2 separate regions of the Homo sapiens genome follow, and region 1 is linked to region 2. Evidence: fine-mapped QTL for protein levels in blood plasma. A gene starts in region 2. The other region holds a variant in brackets. All regions are shown on one strand. Distances are between the middles of the regions. Region 1 overlaps MCF2L (MCF.2 cell line derived transforming sequence like). Region 2 holds the start of F10 (coagulation factor X).

The links. PIP is the chance, under the fine-mapping model, that this variant and not a neighbour inherited with it causes the effect. Protein levels are from the aptamer-based SomaScan assay of Sun 2018.
Region 1: its variant is fine-mapped to the plasma level of the F10 protein (Sun 2018, PIP 0.95).

Annotation. Positions count from the first base shown.
Region 1 is chr13:113,096,794-113,105,370 of GRCh38, reverse strand. MCF2L (MCF.2 cell line derived transforming sequence like) reads right to left here. Exons shown (of 30, transcript NM_001112732.3): 30 at 5,629-8,577. The coding sequence ends at 8,512. Among named protein-coding and RNA genes, the nearest start is that of F7, 4.7 kb to the left of the region's middle. The variant A/C (reference allele first, on the strand shown) is at 4,700.
Region 2 is chr13:113,119,143-113,133,722 of GRCh38, reverse strand. It overlaps F10 (coagulation factor X), which reads right to left and starts at 10,924. Exons shown (of 8, transcript NM_000504.4): 1 at 10,798-10,924; 2 at 4,111-4,271. The coding sequence starts at 10,867. F7 (coagulation factor VII) reads right to left here. Exons shown (of 8, transcript NM_019616.4): 8 at 13,038-14,580. F10-AS1 (F10 antisense RNA 1) reads left to right here and starts at 3,677. Exons shown (of 3, transcript NR_126424.1): 1 at 3,677-3,717; 2 at 4,846-4,988; 3 at 5,298-5,568. It also overlaps the pseudogene KARS1P2. RefSeq lists enhancers at 3,046-3,772, 3,773-4,499.

The sequences.
Region 1 (8,577 bases), 25 kb after region 2:
AGGGAGGCTGGTTTCTTAGGTGAGCCACAGAGCCTCACTGAGAAGTGCCGGGAATAGGATCATTCTGGCCCTGAGCTGGGCACCCCCACTCCGTTTTGACTGCAGGCAGCACCCCCATTCTCCAGCGGTCCACATCTTACGTCTTTTTGTTTGTTTTGTTTTGTTTGTTTGAGACAGAGTCTTGCTCTGTTGCCAGGCTGGAGAGTGCACTGGTGCAATCTCACTGCAACCTCCACCTCCCGGGTTCAAGTGATTCTTGTGCCTCAGCCTCCTGAGTAGCTGGGACCACAGGTGCACGTCACCATGCCTGGCTAATTTATATATATATATTTTTTTTTTTTAGCAGAGATGGGGTTTCACCGTGTTGACCAGGCTGGTTTCGAACTCCTGACCTCAAGTGATCCACATGCCTCAGCCTCCCAAAGTGCTGGGATTACAGGCGTGAGCCACTGTGCCCGGCTGGCGGCAGTCCACGTCATTTCTACCTGCTGTCATGGGCCCAAGCCACAAGCTGTGGTGACTAACCACCCCAGGTTGCCCAGGGACTGAGGGTTCTCAGAATGTGGAACTTTCCATCCCAAAAACACTGGGGTAGACGGTCATCCAAGCCTCCTGGGTTGCCCAGCAGGCCTGTCTGACCCCTCAAGCAGGGAGTATCCTCCATGTGAACAGTTGCATTGCTGATGACTTCTTTGGAAGCTGATGTCCAGTTCTTTTTACGGCTGGAGGGAGGGAGGTGATTCCTTCCCAACAGCCAAGTCTTAGCTCAGGGGTGCCTTTCAAAGCAGCCCCCAGCACCCCCAAAGCCTCCCTGCTTGCTGCTGACCTGCATCTCAGTCCAGAGAGCAGAGCACTTGCTGAGGGGCCGACAGGGCATGTTTTCTCTTCCACCCAGCACAGCTGAAGCCCATCTGTGCCCCTCCATGATATCGATCCCAGGGAGATCGCTTACAAAGTAGCTGCTCCGTCTGGAATAAAGCTCACGTCCAGCTCAAATCTGGTCCCCGCGGCTCTCGGCCAGCACAGCCCAAGGTAATTTCAGGACGTGGAGGGGAGGGGGCCATATCTAAACCCTACCCCTTTCCCACCTGAGAGTAGATGGCTGGCTGGTCTTAGGGTACCCTTCCCCTTTGGGGCTCCAGGTCAGAGGTCCTCAACCCTCTCTGGGCAGCAGAATGACCTGGGGAACCTCAAGCGCCAAAACCCCCTGAGAGATTCAGTGGCTCATGGCCTCGGGGCTGGTGAAGCTCTTCAGGTGATGGACCCTCACCTGCATGCAGCCCTCTCTGTGCGGGCAGGCGGGAGGGGGCAGGAACCGGGCTATCTGGCTGGGCTCTCTGCCCGTCTCACTGCTGGCCAGGGCGGCTGCAGGTGCCCGCCTATGGCCATTGTCCTGGTGTGGGTCCTTGAGGACACAGGTGTGAGGGGCTCCACCTGGCCCCGGGGACCCGCTCCATACCTCCCTGAGGGGGACCTGCCTGCTGGTCTCCCTCCCACGTCTGTCCCAGGGGCATGCCTGGAACCTTGCCTGGGGCTGGACCCGGCCACACGGAGTAGCAGGTGTGGGGGCTGCTGCACCATCCCTCTCACAAAACCCCACTTCCTCCCTTCAGGGAGGCTAACCAGGCTCTCCCAGGACTCCCGGGACCTCCTCTGGGGCCTCCTTGGACATGCTGTGGCCCTGTCACTAGGATGGGAGGGTCCTTCAGCCCCTACCCTGGGGAAGGGCACGGTCACAGCTCTGTTCCCAGGCCAGGCCTCCCTCTCTCCTGTGGCAGCCTCTGTTGATCCACCCATCCACTCATTCCCGCCTGCAAGAAGGGCTGGGCCCCTCCGCCTCACAGTCACTCTTGAGTGTGGAGGACACAGGAAAACTTTGGTTGTCATCTCAAGGCAAGTTGCTTGTTTGGGGGCTACAGAAACCACGTCAGCACCTTGTTCATCTGCAGCCATCCCTGACTGTGGTGGTGGGCACACGTGAGCTGTCCAGGGAGTGTGTGAGTCAGATGTCTGTGACATCAGAATCTCTTGGGTGGTGGCTCATGCCTGTAATCCCAGCACTTTGGGAGGCTGAGGACTGAGGATCGCTTGAGGAAAGGAGTTCCAGACCAACCTGGGCAACATAGCAAGACCAAAGCTAGACAAAAAATAAAAAAATTAGCTGGGCTTGGTGGTTCATGCCTGTGGTCCCAGAGACAGAGAACCCGGGAGGCAGAGGTTGCAATGAGCTGAGATTGTGCCACTGCACTCAAGCCTGGGCGACAGAGGGAGACCCTGACTCCTTCCCTACCAAAGAATCTCCATGCTCACACTCGTACATGAGAACCACGCTCGCACAACCCAAACTCACGCCATACACATACCACACTCACACACACCGTACACATGCCACACTCATACCCCAAAGTCACACCACATAAACACACCCCTATACACATGCCACACACCTACACACACGTGATTTCCAGGCTCTTCCACACCCATAAGGAATTGGAATCTACGGGCAGGTCCCGGGAATAGTATTGAACAAACATCCAGGGAAACTGCTATGTGTTCTCGTTTTGGGAACCAGTGAGCACATCCCACCTGGTGCCAAATGCATCTCGGCAGGACGCATGTATGCCAGGGAAACAGGCAGCCACTAACAGGATTTGAGCTTGGGCACCAATTGGTTCCAAATCCTATTTGGTGCAATCCTAGAAGCAAGGGTTTCCTTGTGACGGAGGGTGCAGGGCATGGGAGGACAGAGGAGCTGCGTGCACGGATGCCTGTGTGCCCTGTGCCTGCAAAGCCGCCACAGCAAGCTGTCTTGCAGGCCAGTTCCAATGGCTGACAGTGTGTGCACTGGCGAGGAAAAGCCTGTGCTAAGCGGAACTCTGCTGTCTGTGCAGAGAAGGGAGCTGGGCCTGGGCACCACTGTCAGCCAGTAGAGCACGGGGCTGCTCCCTCCACCCCACCCGGGTGCTTTGCCTTCTTGGGGCCACAGCTGGAGGCAGCTGAGCCCTCGGGCCTGCCGGGTGTCACACCAGTGCTGTAGGATGCTAACTTTCAGTTTAAGAGAGAGAATGTATGCAAGGTTGAACAGTTATGATTTTGAGCAGAATTTTTCTTCTCTGGGCCTTGGTCCTGCTTTTCACCCTTGTCTGGGGTCTTAGCGTGGAGAGAAATTCACCATGGGATGTGCTCAGATTGTCCATCTTATCTTTTTGTCCATCTCTTAAAGTGTAGCTTGTCTTTTGTAAGAAATCTATCCTTGCCCTAGGCAATAAGAATATTCTGTTTCCTCATAATAATGTTTTAATCTTAAGTTTGGGGGGGCTATACTTTTATGCCATCATCCACATGGAAAGGCAGCTGTCCCAATAACACCCGTTCCTGAAGAGGCCATTCCGTGCCAAAGATTGACCAGCCCCAGGACAAGCCAGGTCCCTGCACACATCCCTGCCTGGGAATCTGAATTCTGCTCGACCAGTTTAGCCTCTCTCCCCCTTGTCACGACTGATGACAGGTTTATGATCTATCCAGATGCCTGGTAGGTGAGCCCTCCTCCTCCTGCCTCTGCTCCCCGAATCACCACGGCTATACTCAGACCTTTATCTTCTATGTTTATTACAATCAACTTCCTAATTCCACAAAGAATTCTGTTGGAATTTTGATGAAATACACAGATTAACTTGGGGGAGAGTTAACACTTTGGTGATACTGAATTGTCCCATCCATAAAAATCTCCCATTTAGGCCTTCTTTTATGACCTTCTATCATGTTTCATAATTTTGTCCAAAACTTTTGTTACATTTATTTTAGTATTTAGGTTGCTGTTAAAATAGTATTGTTATTGCTAGGAATGTTAATAACTTTTTGTGGGTTGATCTTGTGGACTTCTTAGTTTCAATAGTTTATGAATTCACCTGGTTTTTCTAGATATGAAAAGTTATTTTTCAATTAGCATGCCTTGGTTCCTTTTTCTTTTTTTCTTTTTTTGAGATGGAGTTTCACTCTTGTTGCCCAGGCTGGAGTGCAATGGCGACATCTCGGCTCACGGCAACCTCTGCCTCCTGGGATCAGGCGATTCTCCCGTCTCAGCCTCCCGAGTAGCTGGGATTACAGGCATGCACCACCACGCCCGGCTAATTTTGTATTTTTAATAGAGACGGGGTTTCACCGTGTTAGCCAGGATGGTCTCGATCTCCTGACCTCGTGATCTGCCGCCTCGGCCTCCCAAAGTGCTGGGATGACAGGCCTGAGCCGCCGCGCTGGCCTTGTTTCCTTTTCCTTTGCGGTGGTAGTCACTAGTACTGCGGCTAAATGGCGCTGGAGAGTAGTGGGGCCCCGTTCAGTTCTGCTGCCAATGGGGATGGTTCTAAAGGATTTCAGTACTTAAAATTTTTGCTGCAGCCGGGCGCGGTGGCTCACGCCTGTAATCCCAGCACTTTGGGAGGCTGAGGTGGGAGATCACGAGGTCAGGAGATCGAGACCATCCCGGCTAACGCAGTGAAACCCCGTCTCTACTAAAAATACAAAAAATGAGCCGGGCGTGGTGGCGGGCGCCTGTAGTCCCAGCTCCTCGGGAGGCTGAGGCAGGAGAGTGGTGTGAACCCGGGAGGCGGAGCTTGCAGTGAGCCGAGATCGCGCCACTGCACTCCAGCCTGGGCGACAGAGCGAGACTCCGTCTCAGAAAACAAACAAACAAACAAACAAA[A/C]AAAAAAAGTTCGCTGCAAAGATTTTGTTTGATACATATTATTTAGTTAAAGAAATTTTCTTCTACTCCTAGTTGGCCTAACATGACAAGTACATGTTGAATAAAAATTGAATTATTGTTTTGCATTTGTTAAGCTGGTGATTTTACCCTTCACTTCATTAATATGGCAAATTATAGCCACATTAACATACTACCCCTTGCATTCCTGGGATGAATTTACTTGCTTAGAAAGTATTACCTTTATTTATAACACAGAATTGGGTTTTACTTAATTATATTTCATTTGGAATTTTTGCATTCATCTTCATAATTTTATTTTTTCTTACATTGTCTTTTTGTTTGGTTGATTTTGAGAGACAGGGTCTTGCTCTGTTGCCCAGGCTGGAGTGCAGTGGCATGATCATCATAGCTCACTGCAGCCTTGGACTCCTGGGCTCACTTGTAAGGTCTCAGCTTCCCAAGTAGCTGGGACTACAGGTATGTGCCACCATGCCCGGCTAATTTTTAAATTTCATGTAGAGATGGTGTCTTGCAATGTTGCCCAGGCTGGTCTCAAACTCCTGGTCTCAGACAACTCTCCCACCTCGGCCTCCCAAAGTACTAGAAGAACAGATGTGAGCCACCTGGCCCAGCTGATTCTTTTCTTACATAATCTTTGTCAGGTTTGGGTACCAAGGTTAAATTTGATTCATAACTTTATTGAGTTGCTTTCTCTTGTTATATTCTTTTAAATAGCTTTTATAAATATGTTTGTATGCTTACAAAATCACCTAGATCTGGTATCTGTTTGGGGTAATTTTTTTTTTAATTGCAATGCAATTTCTGTAACTGTTATTCATCAACCCAAGTATTTCATTTCTTCTTGACCAATTCTAACAATAAATCCTATTTATCTGTTTTCAAATATATTGGCAGAAAGGTGTTCATAATGGTTCTCTCATATTTAAAATTTTTTATTTGATATGGAGTTTCTTAGGTTTTCTATAAATTAGTCAGTTTTATTAGATTTTTCAGGTACAAAGTTTGAGTTTTGCTTTTGATTTTGTTATTCTCTTTTCTCAACTGTCCTAATTGACAGAAGTATTTAAATACTTTCTTTGGGTTACGCTAGTCTTATTTTTTTGGCTTAAATGGTTAACTCGTTCATTTTGTCATGTATAAAATCAGACACCACTAAGCTGTCGACACCAATCTGAGCTGGCCGTGGCTGCTCCCTCCCGTGGCTCTGTGCACGCTGTCCAGTTCTAGAGAGCAGACTGCCCGCATCCCGTGAGTTAGAAACAAGCTTTTAAATTGCCAAACAGTGTTTCAATGATCTTCCCATTGTTTTGCAAATATTTTGTTTGTGCTCCATGTGTGCTGGAAAATAACGCAGATTTCTCTACGTTTAGGGGCAAACAGGGATCACTTTTCATGACAGTCAACATTGCTGTCTGCCGACTGCCAACTTTGCTGTGTTTTGAGCTTTATAGTCAGTGGCTTATGAGTTCCTGATTGCCACGCAGCCCCCTTTACTCTATGAACTGTCCTGAATCCCATTTCAGGTCATCGATACTGCTACACCAGCTTTCTTATGGTGTTTGTCTGTTCTGTCTTCTTTTATTTTAAATCTCCAATCTATATATAAATTTGCTTGATGGTCTCTAAGCAGTGACTTGTCACGTCTGATCCGATGCTCTTCCAGGCCAGCATAACATGATCACGTCTGTTGTGAGCCAGACACATCTGGGCTGTCTCTTCCGTTACATGTTGTTTCCTGTTAACCATGCTTTCCCCTTTCTCCACCCTTCCCTTCTTCTATTGGATCAATACCCTTTCTTTATGCTCCCTTTTCTGGTCTGGAGAGTGTCGGCTGCATTGTGATTCTGTAATGGTTCCACTACGCTTCCTCTGCTGCCTTTGCGTTTCTGACACGCACAACCTTGTTGCTATTTTGTCATCATCGCCGTCTGACAGAAGAAAGCAAAGCGGTTGCTCGGTGCCTGAGCCGCACGCTGGGCCCTGCCCACTGCCGGCTTCTTTTCCGTCCCAACAATGACTTACCATGTGCAAGCACAGTGCACTGCGGCCCTGGAAACCCCGACTGCTGAGACGTTCTGTGTCTTGACAGACAAAGGCAGATGGCAGGAGTTGCTGATATTTATTCAAACGTCATCCATACAATAAAGAACTCTGCTTTTAAAATTCCATTTACATCAGCAGTTAAAAAAAAGTGACAGTGGATGAAACATGAAGCTGTAAAGTGCCTTTATGGGGAGGGTCACACAAGGGCGCGCAGCTGTGCGACGAGACGGAGGCACCGCGCCTGCACAGTACATCAGGGACATCGCGGGACACAGCACGCGTTCCAAATAACTTACACATCAGAGGAAAAGCTGCCGAGTCTCTGCATGCTTCCTATTTGATTCCGCACCCTGGAGGTCTGGCCAGTGACGGCTACAAGCCGCTGGGAGGGTAGCGTGAGGGGAATGCAGCCACGCCTGCCTCCACTGTGCTGGGGCTGGGAACCGTGAGGCTGTGAGGCGGCCCTCCCAGCAGCACGGGGACAGCGAATATGTCCTTTCCAGCAAGACACATATGTACACACATGGTCAGAGGTGCACACATACAAAAACATCTGCAGACTAGACACCGAAAGGGCTTCAAAAGTTTTGAACAGAATATGTTTCTGAAACACAAGAAGTTGGTAAAACAGAAGAGTTTTTTTCCAGTTCTGCTGTGACTTGAATAAAATACTCTCCCCACTTTCACTTCTGTACTCAAGGTGGTCACCAGGTGGCAGGTGGACCTGGGTGGGAGGCAGGGGGCGCGTGGGGAGTGGAGTGGAGGTGCGGCCTCCGAGGAGGCTGCAGTGCAGTGAGGCAGGGGCAGGGCTCTCTGAGCTATGGTCGGCAGCACTGGTCCACGCCACACCCTGCAGAAACTGCATCTTTGTATTTTCTTTAAAAGCAATAAAAATATCCTAATTCAGTGAAGCTCTTTAAAAAAATCAAGTCCCTGCATTTTTTTTGTAGAAAAGAACGTTAATTGTTTAAATTATAGTTTAAATTTTCTTTTGAAAATGAACCCTAGGTAGATAAAGGAATCTCCTTGGCTTCTAACTGCTTTTGGTGGTGGAGACACCACCTGATGTCACCCACGGACACGTTTTCATCCACCTGTGACCAGGGAGCTTCAGGGAGTGCCATCCGTTTCCATGGGAGAGCCCCCCCAAAGTCACTTAGTGGTATAAACAACGTGCTTCTATGTAAACCCCGGTAACAAAAAAATAGTTTTCTATCAAATACAGTATCAAATTGTCATTTCATGTAAACACAGTGATTCCTGGTGAAGAATTGAGGCCAAAGTACCACAAAAAATGGCCACGGGATTGATCCCTGCTTGAAAAAATCCTAAAACTTGTAAAAGCTAAAGAGACCCCGTGCCCCGCTCTCCTCAGGCCGTTGGCCAGAGGATCCTCCACTTCTCCGGAAGCAGCTCCACCACGGTCCGCGCGTCCCCTGAAAGCACCGTCCAGAGGCAGAAGCAGCACGGTGGAGCCAGGACGAGATGCCGCTGCCCGGCGCCTGCCGCCCGGGGCTGTTCCCTGCGGCCCCTCCTCTGTGGGCTCTGGAGTCTCCGGGGAAGCCCCAGCGGGCCGGGGTCTTCCGTGGAACCTGCCTCTGCCCCGGAGGGGTCCTCTGCAGCCCGCACGGCCAGGCGCTCTGGGTGGGGGCGGTGAGGTGCCCCTTCCTCGGGGCGTCCGGGGGCCGCGCCCTCCCCACGCCACCGCAGCCCCAGACAGCGCGCGGGTCTCCGGCGCCGAGGCCGCGCTACCCCTGCAGGTCGGAGAAGGGGGCCTGGCCGCCCTCGCTGCAGCTGGACGAGTTGCTCAGCAC
Region 2 (14,580 bases):
TTGTTTTCAGTATTTGTCTGGTTTTGACATCAGGGTAATGCTGGCCTAAGACAAACTAAGAAGTGTTCCCTCTTCTATGTTCTGGAAGAGTTGTATAGAATTGGTGTTCTTTTTGAAATGTTTGGTAAAATTCTACCAGTGAAACCATCTGTACCTGAACATTACTTTTTCAGAAGGTTTTAAATTAAGAATTGAATTGGCAGGTATCTCTTTCACCTTGTGTATGTTTTGGTGGCTTGTGGTATTGAAGAATAGGCTCATTTCATCCAAGTTCAAATCTCATGCAAATTTATATATGCAGAGTTGTTCAAAGTATTTTCTTATTATACATTTAACATCTACAGTTTCTGTAGTGATGTCCCCTCTCTTCCATTTCCAACATAGGTCCTTTTTCTTGTTTTTGTTTGTTTGTTTTTATTCCTGTCAGTCTTGTTTGAGTTTCATCAGCTTATTAATTTTGTCTATTATTTTTGTTTTAAATTTCTTTGATTTCTGCTTTTTCAATTTCCTTTTGGTTTATTTTTTTCTTTTTTTCTAGTTTATTAAAGTGGAAGCTTACATAAACAATTTGAGACCGTCTTTCTTTTCCCATGTGAGCATTTAATGCTATAAATTTCCCTTGAAACACTGCTTTTTTAGCTGCATCCCACAGATTTTATGTTACATATTCATTTTTGTTCAGCTCAAAATACTTTCTTACTCCCCTTAAAATTTTCTCTTTGACTCACAGATTATTTATACATGTGTGACTTAATTTCCGAGTACTTAGGGAAGTTTCCAGTTATTTTTCTGTTAGTAATTTTTACTTTAATTCCATTATGGTCAGAAAACATACTTTATGTGAGTTCAATCTTTTTATTGAGGTATGCTTTAAGACACAGGATATAGTCTACCTTGAGGAATTTTCCATATGTGGAAGGAAAGTGTACTTTGCTATTGTTGAGAATCCTATAAATGTCCATTAGATTCAGGTCAAGTGATGTCTGGAAGACTGGAGGAAAAAATGATAAACTCACAGCCAGTTGTATCATATCATACATCTAATTGTAGTCTTATTCTGCAATACACTGCGATTTACTTTTTAGGGTCGTCAAATAGCTGCTACATGCATTCTATCCATGTTTTGGAGCTACACTCAGTGGGAGAGGCAGTGTGGAATGTGATTTCTTCATCTTATCTGGAATTGGAACTTGTTGATAACCTTTAATTCAGTCGTCTCTCTCTGGAGAAGCCACTCTTAGATGATAATCTAGAAGAAATGCATGCATATGTGTTTTCCTAATAGCAATATTTAGAAATAACTTATATGGCCAAACTCTGAAAAGAGTAAATGCATCATACAATAAAATATAGCTTAGCTATAGGGTAGCTATATATAAGTAAAGAAGAGTGTTTGAGAAACGATGCTGAGTGAAACATAAACTTGGATCAGCATTATTTACTTTTACTAAAGAAAAATTCTACCAGTGGAAAAAAATATATGTATATATAAGAAGTATTTGAAAATATTTCCGAAAATTCTAAATTTTTTCTGTTAGAGACAAGCCATTTATTTGCTAACAAGTAATAAAAAGGAATTCTTAATTTAATTAAGAATTAGAGTAGACCTTGATCTTTTGCAGAAATGCAAAGATATCTGAGTCACACAACTTAGACAATTAAAATTTTCTAGATAGACGTGTCAATGTTGCGCTTTCCATTGTATTAGTGGCTGCTACATTCTCTTTCTTCAAGTTTCATGCCAGGAGTCAGAAATATTTCCTTGATGTTGTGGGAGTCTGTGAGAAACATGGTAACACATTTGATTGTCACGCTCCAACCAGCTGTGGGCGGAAGCCCATATTCCAGGGTTGCATGGAAGCTTTCATCTATGAATGTGGCCTCATCATCTTTGCTGGCCTTGTCTTGTTTGTCAACAGCTGCTGCTGTTGCTGCATGGAAACATTCAGCTATCTTCATGACAAATAGCTCAAAGTGCTCAGTGAGACCCTCTTAGAGAGATCATTTGGTCAAAGAGCTCATTATCTGCAGGTGATAACAGATAAATGTGGGACTGATGTAAGTCACTTTCAGGAACTCCTTGACAAGTTTATCAAGGCGCCTGAATATGTTCTGAGGTAGAAGACTTTCAAAAGCTTTTGTTACATAGATATCACCAATAATTTTTTGAGTTTCTTCAGTTCCAAAGAGGTTAGTTTCTGGCAGCGTCACACCCAGCACTTTTTCAAGCTCTTCTACCACACTGATTCTCCAGAAGGGTGAGGAGAAGTCAACCCATAGGTTTGGCTTTCTGAGCCATCTGGATGGTGGGTGACCTTGTAACCACCTGTGATGTGCTTCATCCCTGACATAATCTTTTCTTGGATTTCAATGAGATCATGACAGTCTGCACAGACCATATAGGGTGGCAAATCAAATACATTCTCTTATTCCTTAACTGGCATCCAATTTCATAAATCCAGTCAATGCTACTAACCAGCATCTGAAGGTAGAGTCCTGGAGCAATTCTCAAATACAAGTTAATGTCCAGCTTGTTGTAGCAGGTGATGAAAGGCTTAGCCCCTGCTACCCGGGATGACGTTCATCATGAGGGTTTCAATGTCTAGAAATCTCAACTCATCCAAAAACCTTGTCATATATGTGGTGATCTTAGGGCAGATGATACACTGCTTTCTCAGAAAGTCACTCAGGATCAAATCCAAGTACTCAAATAATATTGGGTCTCCTTGCCTTTGAGGCTAAAGTAAGGATGGGGCAACATGTGAGCCAGGAGGCAGCAGTGCAATTTTGCAGGGGCTGATGCTGCGCTCGCCCTTCTTGGTGTTTCCTAGATTTTCCTGGACTCTGAGTACGTCTCCCTGAGGCAGTTTATTTATTGACTTATAATTCCTTGACCTGGCCATAACTTGTAACTTCACCCTGGTCCGCAGGGGTCATTAGAAGGTGAACTTTCCCCAGCTCTTTTGGCATGGATCTCCAGGGTGACATCAGTCAGGTGGTCCCAGGCTGCAGGTGACTGCACTCCGGGATGAAGCAAGCGAGTAATGTCCACATGGAAGCTGCAGGGGTCTTCCCCAGTAACCTTCGGCGGTGGCCTGCGCTGGGGGACCTGTAAGGGGCCTCAAAGTTTCCATTTGGGTCCACAGTTAGTGGTGTGGCTGATGGCACCAGCCGCGGCTGGCCTAGCTGTTGCTCACTGAGCTCCGGCTTGGCCCCCTTCTCGGCTACTTTCTTCTCTTCAGCTCATTCTTGTCAGTTCGGCATCACCACCGCCCACTTCCACTTCAGAGCCCTGTCCTGCAGGCACCTTTCCTGATGCCTGGGGTGAGGAAGTCGAGACCCCTCGGCCATTTCCAGGTTCGTTCGAAGCCCCGCCTCTTCGGGGGAGAGGAGGGTAGCGTCTTCCGCGCGGGGCTGCTGCGGCTGCGCAATCGCGGCCTGGTGGCATTGCTCTCCTCCTACTGCGCAGGCGCGATGCTGGGTTCGTCGTCCGGTGTGGATGCCGGTCTTCCTGCTGCGCAGGCACCGTGCTGGGTTCGCGGCCTGGCCTCAGTGCGTGTCCTTTTGCTGCGCAGGCGCAGTGCCGGGTTCGCCGCCCGGCCTCAGTGCTAGTGCTTCTGCTGTGCAGGAGCAGTACTGGGTTCGTGGCCTGGCGTCAGTTGTGCGCCTGCGCGCTGGCGCTCTAGGCTGTGGCTCTCAGCGACTACGGAGGCCAAGGCAGGACGCGGGCTGCGGGCGTGGGAGGGCACGATCTCAGCTCACTGCAACTCGGCGAGGCGCTGGCCGAGACCATGACTATTGGTTTTTAGGTTAACATTTTATTTTTAAATAGAACTTAACTCTGGCAGAAGCCCTGTGACCCTCAAGGGACTTGGGCGCATCCCTCCCCGCTGAGTCCTCGCCGGGAAGGAGTCAGCGCGGGGGCGGCACTGATGTCCCTGTGGGCAGGACTCCGCCGAGGCCTCGATTTGCTGGGCCCCGCCCCTGAAAGCCTTCGCGCACGCTGCCCCTTCCTCCAGGCCGCCCCCCTGGATGGACGGAGCAGCGGGGCCAGCGAGGGCGCTGTGGCCTGAGCTCCTTACCAACAGCCAGGCTATCCCCAGCCCTTACCGTCTTGTCGCTGTCCTCAAAGACCTCGCGGGCCTCTTCGTATGAGCAGGTCTCTTCCATGCACTCTCTTTCGAGGTGTCCTTTCTTCATCTCTTCAAGAAAGGAATTGGCCCTCGTGACCCTCGCCAGGATGTTGTTGGCCTGCTCCCTGCGGATGAACACTGGAAGGCAGGGAGGACAGGGTTAAAAGCTCTGGTCACCCTCACCCAGGCTCCCCCTCACCTATGCTCCCTGACTGCCATGTCCCTTGCCATATCCAGATCACAAAAGGCGGATCACTCTCTTGTAAACCAAAAATAAAATTCTAAGCCCCCAACTCACTGAGTGGACCCGTCCTCTCTGCCAAGGGAATTCCATAGGAACCTGAAAGACTAGTTGAGGCCATGAGGGGAAGCAGGTCCCACACGCCTCATTATTTCTTCCTTTGGAATTCGGGCACAGCTGACCAGCATTCACGTTAAGAGACCTTGAGGCTGACCAAACAGAGTCTTTGTAGCAATAAGATACCAGTTTCCAACCTGACTTCTCTAGTATAGGATCACATGACATATAGCAGGCCCTAAAATAAATGATTTTACTCCAAATTGTATTTGTTTGACATATTTTGAAATGGCCCTGCAAAGCTATCTCAGGGAAATCCACATTCTGTAGAGAACCCCCTTACCATTCCAGGTCTTTTTCTGAGCTGAGAGTCTAGCACCTTTTTTTTTTTTTTTTTTTTTTTTTCTCTTTAAGATGGTGTTTTGCTCTGTCATCCAGGCTGGAGTGCAATGGCACAATCTCAGCTCACTGCAACATCTGCCTCCCAGGTTCAAGCCATTGTCCTGCCTCAGGAGGAGATTCTACTGTCTCAGCCTCCCGAGTAGCTGAAACTACAGGCAAGCACCACCACACCCGGCTAATTTTTGTATTTTTAGTAGAGATGGAGTTTCACCATGTTGGCCAGGCTGGTCTTGAACTCCTGACCTTAAGTGATCCACCTGCCTCAGCCTCCCAAAGTGCTGGGATTACAGGATGAGCCAAGGCGCCTGGCCATGTGTGTAGCACCTTTTAAAGGTCTGAAGAGGAAACAGTTGCCATCTATTCCCTCTAAGGGTGGCCACCTATGAGTCTTCATCTACATAACAAGAACCTTGGTCTCCACAACCTCTTATCTTAACCCAGATACTCCTTTCCATTTATTCCAGGTCTTTAGATAATAACTCTTTCAACTGATTGCCAATCAGAATATCTTTGAAGCCACCTATGACCTGGAAGCCCCCACCTTCCCCTTTTCTGGAACGAACCAGTGTACAACTTATGCTTATTGATTGGTGTCTGTATGTAACTTCTGTCCCCCTAAAATACATAAAATCAAGCTGTGACCCAACTACCTTGGACACATGTTCTCAGGACCTTCCAAGGCTGTGTCATGGGTCGTGGTCCTCACATTTGGCTCAGAATAAATCTCTTCAAATATTTTACAGAGTTTGGCTTCTTTATCAACACTTTCCTCAGGCACTTTGGGGGCTGTGGAGGGAAATGCCCATTTCCCCCCTCCCCCCAGTTCTCTATGAGGTACAGCATGAGGCACCTGCTCTAGACCCATGCACCCTTCTCTGGAGAAGTAGACACATCCCACCCAATCAGCTCACCAGCCTCCTCACATGCTCACGCTGGCTCAGCCTGGCCACCCAAGCCCCCTTCCTTGAATTCTCCCTCCCTAGGGTGCTTTCAGCCCACTGTTCTGTGCTTTGGCTCAAGCTGTGCCCCTTCAGCCTGGCCCCACTCGTCTTTAAGGTCTCTGCTCTTTGTTATGTGGGGATTGGTGATGCTGTTTCAATTACAAACTATAATAGTACAATTTATGAAGTGCCAGGACACACATACATGCCAACTTTCAAGAAATAGTATTTATTAGTATTTCCTAAAATACAGTACTTAGTACAAAGTTTTCTATTTGATTCTACTCTTTTAAAAAAAAATACTGAGTTGATTTCATGACTGGCAAATGAGTCTTGATCTGCTGGTTAAAATGCCCTGGATCCGAGAGTCTGTGTCCCTTGTAGAGTGTGTGTCTGTGGGCTGTGCTGTCCACATCTCTCTGCCTGTGTCTCCTTTGTCTCTCACCCACTCCTCCTCCTCTTTTCATTTTGACAGCCTCAGTTTCTTTTCTTGGCCCTCTGTAGTCTTTTTCTGTGCTTTTTTTCCACTGAAAAATTCAATGTCTCACTACAATAAAGATAACTCTTCCAACTGATCTCTCTAGCACTGACTTTTGTCCTGAGCTCCATGTTTTCAGCTCTCTCACTATGACAGATGCCTTCCCTCATCTCAGAACTCCAAACTCTCCATGTCCAAAATTTAAAACAAGACTGCAGAATCAAGCAATCTTGAGCTTCAAAAACACCTTAGTCACTTATTATTTATTATTGGCAGAAGGGAATTATAATATCTACTCTTAGAGCTGTTTTAAAGATTGTATAAACTCCTAGTGTTGAGTTTGGTATACAGAAGGTGCTTAGTAAATCTTGGGTTCATTCCTACCTCCAGTTACTTTACCTTCCAAATTCCCCATTTCTTTTAGTGACACCGACATTATCCCACCAACGCTAGACTTAGATTTATTATTTCTTGACCCTGCCCCATTACTCTGCGTGTCTGCTCCACTCCCACACACTTGCTCTGAAATGCAGCCCACACGTGGCTCCCTGCAACCTGCAGCCTCATGTCACCTCCACTCCACAAAAGGCACTGAGGAAGCTGAGGGGTGGGGAATGCCCATCTCCCTTGGGGCCTCTGGCTCTCATGTTGGGATGACCACAGCCTCAGACAAGTTATCCAAGCCTGGCTTAGTGTTTCCCAAACTGGGACTCGCGGGCCTCCTGGGCTCCAGTTGGGGTCTGAAGACCGCGTTCTGCCTTGCCCTCGGTGTTCTGACGCACCTCCATGTGAACACCTCTCTTGGTACCTTCTCTCTTCCCCTTGGTCTCCTTCCTTGTGGCCAGATGGACATATGCCTGCTTTTTTCTCTGCTACCCTAGAGCCACAGTGATGGTTCACAGACTTGCCACAAGGATTGGTCCCCACTCAACTGGAGCCTGACGCCCTCACTGTCTCTGGTCGATCCCTTGCGCCTCCTCTGACCTCTTAGAGGAACTCGCTGTTCTGTGATAGCGGCCACAGCTCTGTTCCCCTTGGCATCCACCCCCGAGCATCCCCAGGCTGATTGACCAGTAAGAAGTCACCTTTCCTTTGCAGCCCCTGTCCAGTTCCCGCCTTTTCCCATCTCCCTGAAGCCTGCTCAGCTCTCCCCAGCTCATGGGGGTAGGACACGGCCTATAAGGTTGAGCTGGACTGTGTGAGGAAGAGGGTACAGGTGGCAGGCACGGGGTGGAAAGGGTGATGCAAGGAAGTCAAGGACTACCCAGAATCTGCCTCTAGTGGTCTTAGAACAGAGCCCAGGGTCTTCCCATGGCCAGGCCTCCCAGGCCTCACCACCTTCAACTCTGCCCTCATTCACCTCTCTCTGCCACACTGGGCTCTGCGCTGACCCTGGCTGAGCCCAACACTCACACCCCAGGACTTTTGCACCAGTCACCTCCCTGTCTGGAACATTCTTTCCACAGATACCCAAGTGGCTCAGGCCCAGCGCCCTCCGAGACACCCTCCCTGACCACGCCCTCTGACGTTGCCCCCACTCGTGTCTCTTTCATCCCCTTACACTGTGCTATTTGTCTTCTAGCACCCAACCCCTCTCTGACATTACATGCTGACAGGCTTATCCTTCCCTCCGCTGGAAAAAGACTTGACGTGTTTGGTCACAGCTGTATGCCCGTGCCTAGCACGGCCGGAACTTAACCAATATGTGTTGAGGGAATGAAGGAAAGATGGCGTGCCTGGCTCAGCCCTCTGGACTGAATCTGGGCGCTTCTGCTATCTGTTATGGCTGAGTCGCATCAACGCTTCAGTCAGACTGAGCAGGCCGGGTCTGGGCCACGTGGCCACACTTTCTGATGTGAGTAAAATGGGATTTTGGCAAAACGAAATTAAAACAAGGTTTTTAGGCACTTGTCTCAAGAAATTAATGGAACACTCTAGAACTCTGATATGGAGCATCCAGATTGGTAGACATTTGTCGTGTGGTTTGTTTCTTCAGAAGCTGTTGGGAGCATTGCAATCCTCGAGCACACAGTTGTGTTTGTTGTTTTGGCAACATCAGTGAATTCCACAGTCAGCAACTGCATTTGAGCAAGTTTTACCAGCAAGCAAAATTTTCAGTCAGTAAGGTCCAAACTCATGAAGAATGGGTTTAAACTTGTTGAATGTAAAGATTGAAACTGAAGCCACGTAGCTTTAATGATTGCCAGTACAACAGCAGTAGTTTAAAGGCTGGCACTGCAGGTGCTCTGCGTATTCTGATTTTATTAAAATAAAAAGTTGGATTGCAGAAAACACTCACAGGTGGCAGGACAGGGCTGAATAATGTCCCTCCAAATTCATGTCTTTCCCAGAACCTCAGAACCTGACCTTAATTGGAAATAGAACTTTTGTGATGTATTTAGTTAGGAAGACATTTTATGGGAGTAGAGTGAGCCCTAAATCCAATGACTGGTGTCCTTCTGAGAGAAAAGAAGACAGAAAAACAGCCATGGTGAGAACCCCATGCGATGATGGAGGCAGCGATGGGAGCAATGCTCCCACAAGCCATGGGCTGTGAGGCCGCTGGCACCCCGAGGCCAGGAAACAGGCCTAGAGCAGACTCTCTCCCAGCCTCTGGAGGAACCAGCCCCGCTGACGCCTTGATTTTGAACTTCCAGCCTCCAGAGCTGTGGGAGAAATGTTTCTGTTGCTTTAAGCTACTTGGTCCATTGTCCTTTCTTGTAGCAGTACCAGCAAAGGAATGCTGAGGTCCCACCGCCCCAGAAGAACTTCCGTGACTGCCAGGACAGCTGTGCTCGTTTAAAGGCTAGACTGCAGATGCTGTGCGCATTCTGATTTTATTAAAATCAAAAGTGTGCACAGCAGGGTCCTGAGTGGGACCTTCTGGGACCTGTGTTCAGCCCCACCCACCCCACAGTGCAGCTGCCGAGGCCTCTGAGGCAGAGTAGGGGAGAGAGATGGCCTGGCCCTGGCTCTCCGGGGCTGGCCATGTCCACCCAGGGTCCAGGCCGGCCCCCGGGGACACCACAGGCCATGGTTATGAGCCAGGCCCGCATCACACAGCTAAGGGTGCCAATACCCTGTGGACCCAGAGGTCCGCGAGGTGGGCGCCTGCATTTCCCATTGGCAGGAAGGGAAGCTGGCGCTCCACCAGGACTCTGCATAACTCCCCTAGTTTCCTCCTGTGGGTCTGGGTGGGCTCCTGGCCTGTCTTCTCATCCCCACCCTCTGCTTCTTCCCAGGAAGAGGAGTCCTGCCAACTTCCATTCCCAATAAGCCAGAGCAGCTTCCAGAGTCCCGGGCCGGGCTTAGGGCCTCGGGAGCCCCGGGCCGGGCTTAGGGCCTCAGGATCCTAGAGCATTCCGGCTGCAGAATTTTCTACCAATTCGCGGAAGCATCTGTCTGTTTGCAGAGTAGCTTTGCTGTCGATGATGATGGCATGGGTCCTTCCAGGGCCTTGTTCCACCCACGCTGATCTCATCCCACCACAAGCATCACAGTGGGCTCCTGCAGGGGGCAGTGTGGCCTGAGGGGGAGGAAGAAGGCTGGGCGAGTTGGAGCCACACAGTACCCCATGAAGACGGGAGTCCCGTTCCGCGTGGGAGACAGGAAGATGTGGCTCAGGGGACAGAGGCTGGGGAGGGCAGGGGGTTGAGGGTGGGATGGAGAAGACCCCCGTGTGATGTGACTGGAGCTCCAAGTCACCAGGCGGAGGGGCCGTTTAGGTCAGTGATGCACTGAGGATCCACTCAGCCTTCCCAGGGGTCTCCCCTTTCCACCCCACGAGGGTCTCCCCCTGCTCCGTCTCTCCCTCACACATTCCCTTCCCAGGCCTGGGTCCCCTTGGTGCCCCTGCCTGTCCACTTTGTCCAGGATGCAAACAAGTCTAGGGTCCCTGTCTCTCGTGTCCCCACCAGAGGGGCCTCCTCTTCCTCCGCTGTCCCCAGGCTTGCCTGGCTTCTGTCCTGTCTGGGCCTCTGCTTTTGGACAGACCCGGGGGTCCTGGACAGCCCTGCTGCCCCCACCTGTCCAGCTGTGCATTAGGCAGCTCCTTCCCCGACGGAGCCAGTCCGAGAGTGGTGGCACTGGCTCGGCTCAGCCTCCTCCTCCCTGGGAGCTCCTCTGCTGTGCCCCTCGTCCTGTGCCTCCCTGTGGTGGCAGATGGCTAACTGTCCTGTCTCTGCCTGCCCCAACCCCTCCCTCTCTCTCTGTCTCCGTCTTTCTACCTCTGTCTCTGCCTCTTGGCCTCCCATCTCACTGTGTCTCCGTTTCTCCTTCCCTCTCCCTTTCTCTCTCTGACTCTGTCCTTGTGTTTTTGTCTCTGTGACCTCTGATCCGCCCGTCTGACTCTCAGCCCCAGGGAGCCACAGCTGGCCTTGAGGATGCCGTTGGCTGGAAAGGCCAAGCCCAGCCATCCGAGCCCAGCCTCTGGCAGCACTCAAGGCACCCACCGTCCAGGCTGCAGAGATGAGAGGGTTTCCCCAACTGCCGCCCCTCCCTGCTCCCTGGCGCTGCTTTTGGGTCTGAAGGGCGAGGGGCACTTACGACTTTCCCCGAGCAGCAGGAGGCCAGCCAGGGAGGCACTGAGCAGGACGAGGTGCAGTGGGCGCCCCATGGTGTGGCCGAGTACTGTGTCCCTGTCCTCACTGGGACAGGCTGCTGGAGCAAAGTCCACGCCCCAGCTGGGATGGCTGTTGTCTGGCTGCTTATCACTTGGCTTAGGCCTCCTGATTGGAGCCGAGACCTGCTGGCGAGGCAGGGGAGTGACCACGCTGGGAACACATCCACTCTGGCCCCACCTTCCCCAGGCAGAGCTGGGCGGCCAGAGAGGCCCCGCAGAACCTCATCCTCATCAGTCACCAGGGCCGCGGGTGTGGGGACTTTCTGTTCTAAGAATAAAAACATCATTTCGTGCTCATTTTGTAGTTTCCAGATGTTTACATTTAACTCTCAGTCCTCACATACAAATATCATTTTCCCCATCATTTTTCCAGAAGAGAAAACTAAGTTTAGAGAGCGCAGAAGCCTGAGCCGAGGCCGCTGGCAGTGAGCGTGGGATCTGAGCCCAGGACTTCTGCCCCAAGGCCCTGCTTGTTTCTGGGCGGGCCCTTCCGCTCACAGCCACTCTCTGGGTGGTATCAGGTGGTCTCATGTCACGGGGGGGGCTTGGCATCTGCACCATGGCCTCCCACAGGCCAGGCTGGCACCTGCCCCACCCACCCCCAAACCTTCTGTGCCCGCATGGCCCCAAAACGTACTTCTGTGGGGAGTGACCTTCCCGTGACCATCTGGAGGGACAGGCTGTGTCTGAAGCCCCTCCTGACCTGCCCACCACTGGCCACACTGTTCCGAGGCTGAGAGGGCTTCTGGGCTCGTTCTCCAGTGCAGAAACCTCCCATCACAAGGTCCTGAGTGTCTCTGCTCAATGGCTGTGGGAGTCACTGGGAGGTGCAGCCGGGCTTTTTGCCTCTGGGGTCTCTGGAATAAATGGTCTAAAGCTTGGCCAGTGTGGCGATCACTGCCTGCTATGCCGTAGTGGCCGGGGAGCAATGCCCCTAACACCCACAGCACTGGCCACTGCCTCATGGTGCATCTGCCTTGATGGGTCGCCCTGTCTCGCAGCCACCTGCACATGAGCCTGGTGTGCACACATTGTGCGTCATTGTGCCTGGCACACAGGAGGCACTCACTGAGCCCCACCCGACTGCACAAACTGATGATGCTGGATGCCAACGCCAGGCTGGCCTCCCACGGCGGGCACCACGCACAGCCTGGTCCTCTGAGAAGGGCCTTCCTGGTGGCACCAGATGTCTGACTCCTGCCTCTCCTGGTCTCCACCCTCTGACATCGCCTCTAGGCATGTTTGTATGGAGAGACCAATGCGGTGTGTGCACCAACAGCAGGATGCTCATGGCAGACACGCAGTCTTTGTCATCAATGCTGGGTGGCGATGCTGGCTTTGGTGGCCCAAGCCTGCCGCCTCATCCCACCCTGTCCCAGGCCCATGGCCAGTGGCCTCCCCGTATTCTATCTCGCCACTCACAGAAAGCTGGAGCTGAGCCGTGGCAGGTGGCACGTCCCATATGAAACATGTAGCCTTTGGGGGCGCCCAGGCCCTTCAGCGAAGCCTCTGGGGAGTCCCGGGCCCCCTCCTCCGGCAGCACCATGAGGTGGGCGCCTGCATTTCCCATTGGCAGGAAGGGAGGCTGGCGCTCCACCAGGACCCCGCATGACTCCCCTAGTTTCCTCCTGTGGGTCTGGGTGGGCTCCTGAACTGTCCTCTCATCCCCACCCTCCGCTTCTTCCCAGGAAGAGTCCTGCCAACTTCCACTCCCAAGAAGTCAGAGTGGCTTCCAGAACCCTGGGCTGGGCTTAGGCCCTCAGGAGCCCCGGGCATTCTGGTTGCAGAATTTTCTACCAATTCACTGAAGCATCTGTCTGCAGAGTGGCTTTGCTGTCGATGACCATGGCATGGGCCCTTCCAGGGCCTTGTTCCATCCATGCTGATCTCATCCCACCATAAGCATCACGGTGGGCTCCTGTTTTACACATGAGGAAACTGAGGCATGGTCACTCGGACAAAAGAGAAAGCAGAGCCAGCTCTGACCTGGATCAGGGCCCGCCACTGGCTCCCGTCCCGTTTAGGGGGCATTAGGAACCGGGGTCTGGCCAGGGTCAGCAAGCATCTTCAGCAGAGGTCCTGACACTAACCATGCTGGGCTTGGCGGGTCAGCTGGTCTGTCCGGCTGGACGTCTCTGCCACGGCCACTCCATGGACACTAATATGGGTGTGTTCCCATAAAACTTTATTTACAAGAGCAGGGTGCCTTGGAAGCAGCCCACGGCTGTAGTTCATAGACCCTGTCTGCTCTGAAGTAGATGATGCCTGAGTGCCCCCGAGGTGGGTTGCTGGTGCCTGCCTTGCTGCTGTGAGTGCCAATGGTGCCCACCTTGCTGCTGTGAGTGCCAGTGGTGCCCAGGACGGCCCTGCAGGGATGGCATCGAGTCCACTCTCTGAGCCGTGCTTGCCGGAGTCTGAGTGGGGGCACTGTTTGTCACCTCCCCATTTCTCTGTTCATGTGTTTCTCATTCTTCTTCCACCACCCTGGGGACTCAGCAAGAGTGCAGCTTGCCAGGTCCTCCCACTGCAGCCAGGGCCTGGGAACTTGCATTTAGTGATGCGTGTGTCCCTGACTCTTGAGCAGGTGCTCCCAGGGTCTCTGTGAAATATCATTGACAAGGGCTGTGGCAGGGAGAGAACATCCAATTCCACAGGATCCTGGGAGCTACAGCCTCAAACATCTATCAAACAGCTTTTGTTTTTAAAAAATAGCTTCCATGTGAGGGTTCATTTCAGTGATGTTGAAAATTGTGAAAGAAAAGAGCATCTCAGAGGATGAGCACCGGGGGCTCCAAAAATGAATCATGGGCAACCCAGTGGGTGGCAGGCACCACAGGTGTGCGGAGGAGACGCAGCCGTTTATTGTGAAGCTGGGAAGCAGGTGGGGAATAGTCTGTGCAGCCCGGCACCCAGCGAAGGGAGAAATACATTTGGGGGAGAGTTTGGGGGCATTCGCCACCATGCATGGTGATGCTTCTGAATTGTCTGAAGTGAAGATGATAATGGATAAGAACCAGAAAAGTGAGAGCTAAACAACCGCCTTCAGAGGACAGCACACATGGAGTCAGCATCGGTGTGTGTGCATCTGTGTGTGCATCTGTGTGTGTACATCGGTGTGTGTGCGCATTGGTGTGTGTGTGCTCATCCATGTGTGTGCATATCTGTGTGTGCGCACATCGGTGTGTGCATATCTCTGTGCATCCGTGTGCACTGATGTGTGCGTGCATTGGCATGTGCGTGCATCCATGTGTATATCTGTGTGTGCATCTGTGTGTGCATATCTCTATGTGCGTGTGCATCGGTGTGTTTGCGTATCTCTGTGTGACCATCTGTGTGTGCATCCGTGTGTGTGCATATCTCTGTGTGTGTGCATTGGCGTGTGTGTGTGTGCATCCATGTGTGTTCATGCCTCTACTGTCTCCAGCAATGAAGGCAGAGCAGCAGCCTGAGGCCAGCAGATCACGTGCAGGTGGGCTTGGCTGAAGGGAGGTAAGGAGGCTCAGCTGGGCTGTCTGCCTCCAGGACAACCTTGGCACTCCCCTGCCCCTCTGTCCAGCGCCTGTCTGCCTCTGCCTCTCATCTTTTCTATTCCATCTCTGTGTCTCTATTAGTCTCTTTGAATCTTGGAGTCTCTTTGAGTCTCTCTCCATGTCCTCAGAGTCTCTCCCTCAGTCTCTCTCTGTCTCTGTCTCTCTCTGTTTCTGTCT